2 separate regions of the Homo sapiens genome follow, and region 2 is linked to region 1. The links come from fine-mapping of genetic effects on gene expression. A gene starts in region 1. The other region holds a variant in brackets. All regions are shown on one strand. Distances are from middle to middle. Region 1 holds the start of TRAT1 (T cell receptor associated transmembrane adaptor 1). Region 2 has its middle 36 kb from the start of TRAT1.

Region 1 (5,388 bases):
TGTTTTCATACGTAGTTTTACTTAACTAGAAATAATTATTCTTTTGTGTGTGTTCAAATTTATTTTATTTTTTATTTTACCTATCTAAATATAAAAAATACTATCATCTGATTCTCTTCCTTCATGTGAAATTTTGTTTTGTTTTGACTTTTAATACCTGTGAGGTTTTTAAATACTTTGTCTTTGCATCTCTTCTGTGAAATTGTAAAAGTTCTCAACTGTTGATGTAGGAGCTCCTGTATTAAACCCAAAGGGGAAGTCTGAACTACAAAATGCGATGGAGGAAATGTTACCATATCTGTTCTAAATTTAGAATTAATTAGTCCTGAAAATAGAGGAATGTCATATTCACCGTCTTTGGTCTTCCCATGCTTTCTGAGTTCCCCATCATCATCAGCTCATGGAATTATACTTAGTAATGCTATGTTCATTTCTTGCAGGGCACTAGAAAAATTGGGACACTTGTTTTTGTTCTTTGCTAAAGTATGAACTGGGAAAGATAAGGAGAGGTATGAAAATTGTATGCCAGCTTATGGTCCCTGTGTGATTTATGTAATCAATTGGTTTTAAGATCCATCAAACAGAACAATGGAAGCCAATTCACAGAAATTATAATATATGCAATCTTTACTCCATAGCTGGCCTATACAAATTGGTATTAAAAGTACAAAGCATACTAATTAAGCAAAAGAGGTCATCAGACTATCACAAATGATAGCTATAAACAGTTTAAAAATCCATGCAAAAATGTTCAACCTCATTATAATCAAAGTAATGCATATTGAACAATGAGTTAGCATGTTGTGCTTATGAGATTAGTGACGATTTTTTAAAGGAGATCAGCCTGTGAAGGAGAAGCACTGCTAGAATGAGAGGGAATTGGCATCACTCTTGGAAAAGCAATTTGGCAATAATGAGACTTAAAATGCCATAATCTCTTAATAATTTCAGTTCTAGAAAGTTTTCTGAAAAAATAACCCTTACTACAGAAAAAGCTATAGAGTTGTTCATCTTTCTGTCATGTAAAAATATTTTTAAAAACTGTATACAACAGGGCTGGGCGCAGTGGCTCACGCCTGTAATCTCAGCACTTTGGGAGGCCAAGGCGGGCGGATCATGAGGTCAAGAGATCGAGACCATCCTGGCCAACATAATGAAACCCTGTCTCTATTAGAAATACAAAAATTAGCCAGGCGTGGTGGCACGCGCCTGTAGTCCCAGATACTCAGGAGGTTGAGGCAGGAGAATCGCTTGAACCTGGGAGGCAGAGGTTGCAGTGAGCCAAGATTGCGCCACTGCACTCCTGCCTGGCAACAAAGAGAGACTCTGTCTCAAAAAAAAACAAACAAAAAAAACTGTATACAACATAAATGTTCAGCAATAAACAAATGACTAAACTATAACTGAATAGATATCATTTTTGTGCATTCATTTAAAATGATTATGCAGAAGTTATATTAAAAGGGACATGGTTATGTTAGTGAAAAAAGCTGGATATATTATGTACATTATTATTTCAGTTATGAAAAGCAAACTATATAGAATGTATATAAATAAAATTTGAAAGGAAATAAAACATATTTTGTGTTTTTAAGGTGATGGAAAATACGTATGAATTTTTAATATATATATTTCACAGTTCTCCCACATTACATAATATGCATGTTTCCTTTTGCAACAAAAAGATGTTTATTTAATAAATTAAAAGTACATAAAATAATACAGGAGGAATGAACCATCAACATGGATTCATAACAGTGAGTCAATATGGATCCAACCCTTTCACAACAGCGAGTGAATATGGATCTAACCCTCATGATTAATCTCACAGCAATTGAATTTTCACTGGCCTTTTCAAAATTGTTGTCTCTCTGAATGTTGACAATTGCATTGCTTTCTAGAAAATACTATAGTGCCTAATCTCTGAGGAATTAGAATTACACTTATCCTGTTTAATAGCTAAACTAAACTAAAGAGGAATACACATAGTCAACAAAAGCTTCTTTAAAAATAACAAGTACTTCACATGGCATAATTATCAGTGAACACTTACTGAACAGCTGTAATTAGATTTACGTTCTAAAATGCTGTCCACATTTTTCTTTCAAAAGAAAAATGTCAACTTATACTCATTAACATGTTTCAAAATATATTTTAATTACACTAAAAGTTATCCAACATTTTTAAAATAACTACTTTCTAAATACTAAGGGTCTTCTCGTTAGGACTTAGAAATTAAGTGAATTTTTAGACACACAAATGGAACAAAAAGTTTAAAATGCCACTTACCTGACATGCTTCTTTTTTTCAGAGAAATCTTTATCTAGCCATAAGACAAATATATGGATTAAAAATCCTCCTACAAACTTTTTTCCTAGGTGATGTTGCTCTGTTATGTTAAAAGCAGCATGACAGTAAAACTTATCTTTATCTGTGCCTCGGATTCTTTTCTCTTCTGTTTCTTAAAATCTTTTGTGTGTACTTTGTTTCAGTTACAAACAGGAAATGTGGTGAAGGAGTTGTCTTGAGTTTTGATCTGAAAACAGTCGACTTAAATTGTGTAACGTGGGAAGAAAAATCCCACACACCTTTGTAATCTGACATTTGAATTTTTATCAATACCTGAGTCTAATTGAAAAATAAATAAATAAAGGTAGGAATTAAACCAGGAGGGATCTTCCTATCTCTGGAGAGAATCCAGTCATCTCTTCACAAGTAAATTCACATGGAAACAAAATAAGATACACTAAACTGATGAGTAAATAGTAAGCAACCCGTGGGTGTGCTCAGCTGTTGTATTTTCTTGAGCCATGATGGAGGACAGGGAGTTAATATTTTTTGAGCACTTAGTATGTATCAGTTGCCTTCTATACCTCATCTTAATGCGAGGCTAGATGCCTGCCTTATTTCCTGACAATCCTCACCTTATCAGTATGAGTTTCTCTGTCCAATCTAGAGCCACCTGACAACAAGCTCCTGTTCTCAACCACCATCCCAGAATCTTAATAGCAGCAGTTCTTACATGTTGGTGTACATAAGTATGCTATAAGATGCTAGTTTAAAATCCTGGGCCCGTCTAAATTAGACTATTTAGGGTGAAGCACTAGAATCTGCATTTTAACAAGCAGATTTTCTGAGTGCATTTTAAATTACATATATTGTATATGATAAGATATTTTAATATAGATGTTCTGGACAATGCTTTTGGAAACTCATATAAGGAATAGAATCTATATTATTCATTATTAAAATTTCATAACTAGAATTAAGCACACCGGCACATCGTAAGTCTCAATAATTGAGACTTACTCTCAGTGATTGAACAAACAAAACCATGGGTGTCTTGTGCTTTCTTTGTCTTCCATTATAGAAAATAACTCCCTAGTAAGCAAAATACAGTGCATCTTATCCTTTGGACAAAGCTGGCTAAACACTAACACATTTTTCCACTTCAATCACTCCCCCCCAAAATATTTTTTGGTGAATCGTTGACTCAGAGGCTGTAAAACTGAAAGAGACCTTGGAGATTCTCTGGTCTAAGCTTCTTTAAAAGGGATTTTTAAAGTATGTTCCATAGAACACTCGGCCTTTAAGAAACGCAGAAGACAAATGTTTCTTCAACAAATATCTTTGGAAAAAATATATAGCTTTATTTTTACCTCCGTAGATGCATATTAAAGGCTTAGGTAAGTCCTGCGAAAAGGAAACCCAAATAATATTTTTATCAGAGTTTTTCTAAACTTATTTGGCCAGAGGACTCTTTGTTCAGCCGCTAACCATTAGCAGAGTGACAGGTTTTATGAAGCAGGCCTGGATGCTGACAGAACAAGACTTCAGGGAACAGCAGCCTCAGGTTCATGTAGGGATCAGAGGACAACAAAGAATCAGAAGGTTTCATCTTAGAATTAGATGGAACGTAGGGAGGAAGACTGCTGAAAAGTTGAATCCCAGACATTCAGGAAGATTCGGGCACCTGATAAATCAGTTTGAGAGGAGAGGGCCTAGTTATGGCCTTGAGGAGTTGAGCTTTGGTCCTGAAAGAGGGTAACTGGTAAGAAAAGTAGAAGTCCTAGGCTCAAGAAAGGACTACAGAGGTTACCTAAGCAAGACCTTGGAATATGGGCAAAGTAGATGCCCACAACTCGAGCTTACAGAGGACATTGGAAAGAGAAAGGGTTTCAGGACTGGAAATTTTGGTGCTAGCATTCCTTTGTTAGAACAAAATTATCGCAGAGGATGGGGAAAGAAGGAAGGAAGATGCTTTCATCCCAGCTGATCCATAAAGTGCAATTCCAGAAAAAACGGTGTTTAATTATTATTGGCTGTGAATGGAGAGAAGGTCAACTCAGCAAGAATGACTCAGGCAAAAATGCAGGAACTCTGTGGTTTGCTCAGAAGTATCTCTCAGAGCAGCCCAACAGGAAGAGAGACCCAAAGCAAACCCACCTGTTGGGAGAGCAGCTGTCTAAGGGCTTCCCTGCCTCAAGGGTATGACTTTACCCATACAGCTGCAGGAAGCTGGGGAAGGCAAGAGCAGAAGAGACATTAGGAAGGATATGTCCTGCTTCAGAAAGAGCCTGAAGTACCTGTTGAGTGATTACCTTATGGCTTAAAAGGGTTAATGTACCTCCTATGCATGATTGACATCTCTAAATGGTAAAAACTTAGGCTAATAAATCTGAACCACTTCACAGTTTCTAATTATTACAATATTTTTGAAAAGTGATCTTCATTACAATGTTCCATTCCATAGATTTAAATAATCTACGGAGATGTAACAAGATTGTCCAAGGTCACACAGGAAGTCCGTGCCTGCACATTAGTTAGCTCCATAGATGTTTGAAATTTGCCAGGAAAAAAAAAATAGCTTTTCATTAAATATAGATGGCTGAGCACATGGAAACATTATCAGAATATAAAAAAGCATATGGATATTTATTTGTTATAAAATATATTAGAAAGTGCATTCAGAGATTTGAATGATGGCTTCATGAGCCATGTTTAAATCATAAATAAACATGAGGCCTCTGTAGTACTTTTTAATGAGATGGGTTATCAAAATGGAATTTCAAAGAAAGCTAGACTAAGCAGAAATGTCTCGACAAGCTTAAAGCAGTTAGAGATGTTGTAGGAAATTTTGGGGGGAGGTTTTGATGGGCACCTGCCAAGAAATAAAAATATTAAGGCCAACAAAATTGATGTTTTGTTGCCAAAAGAAAATGAAAAACATGTCAAAATGGCAGCTGCCATTCAGAGTTTCAGAAAAATGGGTCAGAGTGTAGAAAGAGGCCCAGTTTTTCAAACTTCTTTTTTGATGATCATCTATCATTTTTATAATTAATTTTCATCACTATAATGTATTTTCTTATATCTGCGTGTGTGTGTATA
Region 2 (5,392 bases), 36 kb before region 1:
GGAAACAATTTAATGCATATGTGAGAATTTTTCATATTAATCTTACAGGAAACTGGCTTTTCTTTCATCTCTACAAATGTTCTGAGTGGTTTGGAGCAGATTCGGTACATGGAAAAGTATTAGGTTGGTGCAAAAGTAATTGTGGTCTTTCTATTACTTTCTTTTTTTTTTTTTTGAGATGGAGTCTTGCTCTGTTACCCAGGTTGGAGTGCAGTGGCGCAGTCTTAACTCACTACAACCTCTGCCTCCCAGGTTCAAGTGATTCTCCTGCCTCAGCCTCCTGAGTAGCTGCGATTACAGGCGTGTGCCACCATGTCTGGCTAATTTTTGTATTTTTAGTAGAGACGGGGTTTCACCATGTTGGTCAGGCTGGTCTCGAACTCCTGACCTCGTGATCCGCCTGCCTCGGTCCCCCAAAGTGCTGGGATTATAGGTGTGAGCCACCGCGCCTGGCCTGTCCATTACTTTTAATGGCAAAGACCACAGTTACTTTTGCACCAACGTAATACCAGTGAATTTCATTCTGCCAACCCCACTTCACCCCAAATGACATCATTTTAGTACTCCTTACTACCTCTTTAAAAGAAGTTAGGTGAAAAATGAAATCAAGATATTTTGGGGTATATTAGTTAGATTAGGTCCACCTGTGAATAACAGAAATCTCAAAACAACAATGGCTTAAGTAAAACAGAAATTTATCTCTCACATTAAAGAAGGCTGGAGATAGGTGGTCTAAGGCTGGGATGCTGTTCCATGTGTTAGGAATTTAGCTCTTTTTATCCTATTTCTCTGTCATCTTCAGCCCATGCAGTCTATCCTGTGATCAAATGTTGCTATTCAGACTTCAGCCACCACATCTTTATTCCAGCTACAGGTAATGAGGAGCCAAAGAAAGGCAACACAAGCTACAGAGGGAACATTGTTCCAGCAGCCGTGCATCTGGTATTAAAGTGAAAAATGAGCCAAAGTTAAACAAGCAAGAGAGACTTTATTCAAGACTATTGCAATACAGGAGAGAGGTTGAACTCAACTCAGCCTCTGAGTTCAGGGTGAAACAAAAGGCTGGAGAGTTTTTAAGAGCTGGGGTGGGGGTAACGGTAGGCCACCTGTGCTTAATTCTGACCTATCTCCATGACGGAAGGTAGGCTTTTGCCCTCCCACAGACTGGAGGATAAAGGCATTATCTTCCTTCAGAAATTACATTTCAAAGAGATGGTTTTCAGGTTTTTGAGAGAGACATTTCTGGGGGTAATCAAATAGGTAAAAGCTTTTTGAGGAGACATACACACTTGAAAGGGAGCCAAAAAAGAATTTGCAATGATGAGTTTGTTTTTTAAGTAAATAGGAAAACGGACAGGAAGAAATCTGTCTGAAGTTTAGTTAACTTGAGAAGTTAATGCTGTCTTGATCACCAGTTAAAAGTAAAGATTCTGTACTTAGGAAAAATGGGAGAATGGAAATTGGAGAAAAACTGATTTGCCCCAGTTTTCTTAAGTTTTTTTTCTTTCTCAATACTTTGTAGAAAGACTAAAAAGTAGAGTATTTAATTTAAAAATTAATTTTTCAAATGGTAGAATTTTTGGGTACCACTACTGCTTGTGTGGTTAAAAAAAAAAAGACAAAATAGAACAGCAAAGGATGTGGGAGACTCTTCCATTGTTCTAATAATTCATCCTGTAAAGTTAACTTGGGTTTGTAAAATAGAGGCATTGTTAACTGACCTCTACCTATGTGAGCCATTTTCCCTTCCTTCTATCAACATACTGAATCCTGACCCAGCACAATAAACACCATGGCCAGTAGACTATTCTTATAACCTCCTGAGTCTCTCCCACCACCAAAACTGTGTTTCCCAGGAGTGCATGGTGTTTGTTCCTGCACTTGATTATTTTGGCTGTACTTGTAATTACATAAGATAATTGTTATGTGTCCTAATGAAATATGGGTGTGGAGGGAACTTTTCCTATGATAGTTAAGTTCACTGATTCCAAAGAATCAATAAACCGAATTGCTAAAAAAAAATTACTGACAATTTAGGTAAGGGTGAAATAACTCTTAAAGTCTCGGAAGAAAAACCAAAAATCTTGAGGGATGCTGCAGTTAGATTTCATTAGAAATGTTTTCAAGTTCTCATTTCACTTAAAAACAAAACCAAAACTGGGACCATAGACAGTGTTTTATGGACAATGATATTTATACAAGAAAAATGACATGAAACTTCAATCATAGACCTACTCAAAGTAAGGCCTTGGCCCTATATCAAAAGTTAATGACTAAATGTTTATACGTTTTAAATTTAAATGTTTATGGTACTTTAAAAATTTATTCCTCACTTGACCCAATTTTTCCAGTTAATTTACCAAGTATGTTCTTAATCAATGCAGATGGAAGAAATAAACCTACTTAATTCTCAAGTGTTATGATGGTTACTGACATCTTTAAAGACTTGTCCATTACATCAGAGGTGGCCAAGAACGCTATTGATTGAGATTCTTTTTCCATTCTCTTCCATTTTGGTCTAAATAACAAATGTTTCCCTGATTCCAAATGAGATAACTTTCATCCCCTACAGAAAAAATTAGACAAAAGGGGGCACAAAATTATGTTTTAGCTTCAATATCGGGATTTATTTATTTTTGTTTTTGTAAGTTAGTTTTGGGTTCTGTCTCTTATGGAGAGTGAATATGAGGTCACTGCAGGGAAAACCTCTTTTTTTATACACAAAACTGAAAAAGAAAAGCTAAGTCATTTTAAAGCAAGTGGCATTAATAAAATACTTTCCTGTAAAAACACTTTAATATGAAAATATTGTGGTAGATGTAAGTCTTAGTGTTTATTGAAAGCAACAGCCTGTCATTTAAGGGGATTTATTGTTGGATTTTTCCTAAATTAGAAGGGCTGTTAGTGTGTACAAGCTGCCATAAATCGTCATTATTTTTAAGAATTGTTTTCAATTTGTTTTAGTTAGCCTCTTTTGATTTTAAATAACAGAAATGCAAGCACAGCACTTAAAATAAAGAGATTACTATTATTAAATAGATAGGATGCAGGGATAATTAAGAAATAGGGCCCAAGAGCACTTAAACCCAACTCTAGAAATCAGCTATTCTACAGAGCAAGTTCTACACTTAGACTACTTATATTCAAATCCTGAGTCTACAGTTTATTTGTGTGACATCAGGCAAGTTACTTTTTATCAGTCTTGGTTTCTTCATCTTTAAGGTTAGCATCTATCTTTTAGGGTGTTATGTGATTAAATTAAGTATGCAGGTAAGCACTTATCA[C/T]AGTGTCTTACACTTAGCAAGTTCTCAATAAATATGACTTATCATTGTCATGATTGTTATATGATTAGTCTGATTAGTTATGGAGCTTTGAACTCCAGTCTCTGCCATCTTACTCTAAGTTTCTTCCCCTTGTAATTGTACCCTGCTTTTCAAAGCCCCAATTCTATCTATTGTTTTTTTTTGTTGTTGTTGTTCTGATCACTATCCAGTCTCTTGTATCTAGGTTGGTTCAAAGATGAATCTACTGTCTTCTTCCTATAATGTATTCCAACTAATACATGAAGAAGGAATAACAGGACTAGCATATCATTTTGCAAGCTCCTAATGAAACAAATGATCTTGCCAGGCGTCAGCCAACTATGGCCCCTAGGCTACATCTGGCCTGCTTGATTTTGTAAAAAAAGTTTTATTGAAACTGAAAAAAAGGAGAATCCACTGTCGTGATTCAGGTACCCACCCTTGATGCATGACTTCCTAGGTAGTAGAAGCTGTGAGTGGGTGCAGAAGAGCCCTTCAGAAGAGGTTAAAGAATGGCAAATAGCATTTAGAAGTGTACCTCTGTTGAATTTATATTCTGTCTTGTTCCTTTCTGTCAATGCTCTGTTTTTCTGTGTTAATATAAATTGTCTGTTCTGTTAATCAAATGACAAAACCTCAGAGGAAGATTTAAAGCATATGTCTAAACTAATCACCCTCCCTTTACTCTGCTAGAAATAAGCCATTTAATACCAAAAGGAAATGAGTTATCCCTCCTATTTTTGAGATTTGAGTTCAACTTATCGGACCTTTAAAACATTGTCAGTGAAAATCTCAAGACTTGGAATTCATCTGTTTTCTAGTCATGATTTTTCTTTTTCTTTTCCTCCGTACATATTTTTTTTCCAGTTGAAATGTTAAGGCTTATAATGATACAGGCTGAGGATCCATAATCTGAAAATCCAAAATCCAAAATGGTCCAAAGTGGAAAACTTTTTGAGTGCCATGACTCCACAAGTGGAAAATTCCACACCTGACATTATGTGATGAATGCACAAAATTATTTACAAATATTACATAAATAGCCCTCAAGCTATGTGTATATAAACATAAATGAATTTTCTGTCTAGGCTTAAGTCGCATCCCTAAGATACTTCACTACATATGAATAAATATTCCAAAATCTAAAAATCAGAAACACTTCTGTTTCCAAATACAGGATATTCATCCTGTATTCCTTCTGGAACATAAGCCCTGAAAACTGCCAAAGGTGATGTATATATAGTCCCTAATAATTACATGATGATCAGTAATTCATAGCTTACTCACATTTCAAATGATCCTGCTTAGCTTATCGAATTATACTAAATTACACTAAAAATATACTATAGAATTACAGTAAAGTGGTAAGAATGCCTTGGATTTCTGCTTCTGACAAAGATAGAATAACATCCTAGATTTACCCTACTACCTGAACATACTCTGCCAGCTGAAACAACTAAACTCCAGACAAAGTAGATGAAACAGTGTTACTTGACATACTGTTTCAGGCAATGAAGGACAAAGGTCGGTCCCTGAAAGATGGGAAACAAATGAGGTAAACCTTCCTATCATCCTATCTTATTGCCTGGAGAAAAGTTTCAGGCCTTGGAGCAGGTAGAGGAAACCTAGGTAAAAGACCATTGATCTCTTGAATTGAGGAGATGGAGCTCCAGGTCAAGAGAAGTCAAAAAGGCAGAATACTGGAGAGAAGAGAGCTGCGTGTAGAGAAAACTCTGGAGATATGTGAAGAGTCGCCGTCAAGTATTCAGTTAAGTACTGGTCAGTGCACGCAAGTGACAAAACTACCCGAACTTGGGGAAAAACCCACCTGAAAATAATAAAGAAAACAGTGCCCATGACTCACACATGGCTGGGAATAGTGTCGATTATCAACAGCCAAAGTGGAAAACGTCCTAATTCATGAACGGTGGTACTAAGTACTAACGAGGATCTTTCCTCAGTAATAAACTAAATTTAACTTAGTCTAAAAGCTGCTCTGGCTTAATCTAACAAAATTTAAAAGCAAGATTCTAAATGATCAAATTGTGTTCAAGTAACTTGATAGTTTTCAGTTAGCTATGTCACTGAAA

The links. PIP is the estimated chance that this variant, and not a neighbour inherited with it, causes the effect.
Region 2: its variant is the best candidate, but not a certain one, in a credible set for the expression of TRAT1 in whole blood (INTERVAL, PIP 0.75).

What each region holds. Positions count from the first base shown.
Region 1 is chr3:108,819,836-108,825,223 of GRCh38, reverse strand. It overlaps TRAT1 (T cell receptor associated transmembrane adaptor 1), which reads right to left and starts at 2,438. Exons shown (of 6, transcript NM_016388.4): 1 at 2,290-2,438. The coding sequence starts at 2,296.
Region 2 is chr3:108,855,649-108,861,040 of GRCh38, reverse strand. No RefSeq gene overlaps it. Among named protein-coding and RNA genes, the nearest start is that of TRAT1, 36 kb to the right of the region's middle. The variant C/T (reference allele first, on the strand shown) is at 3,285.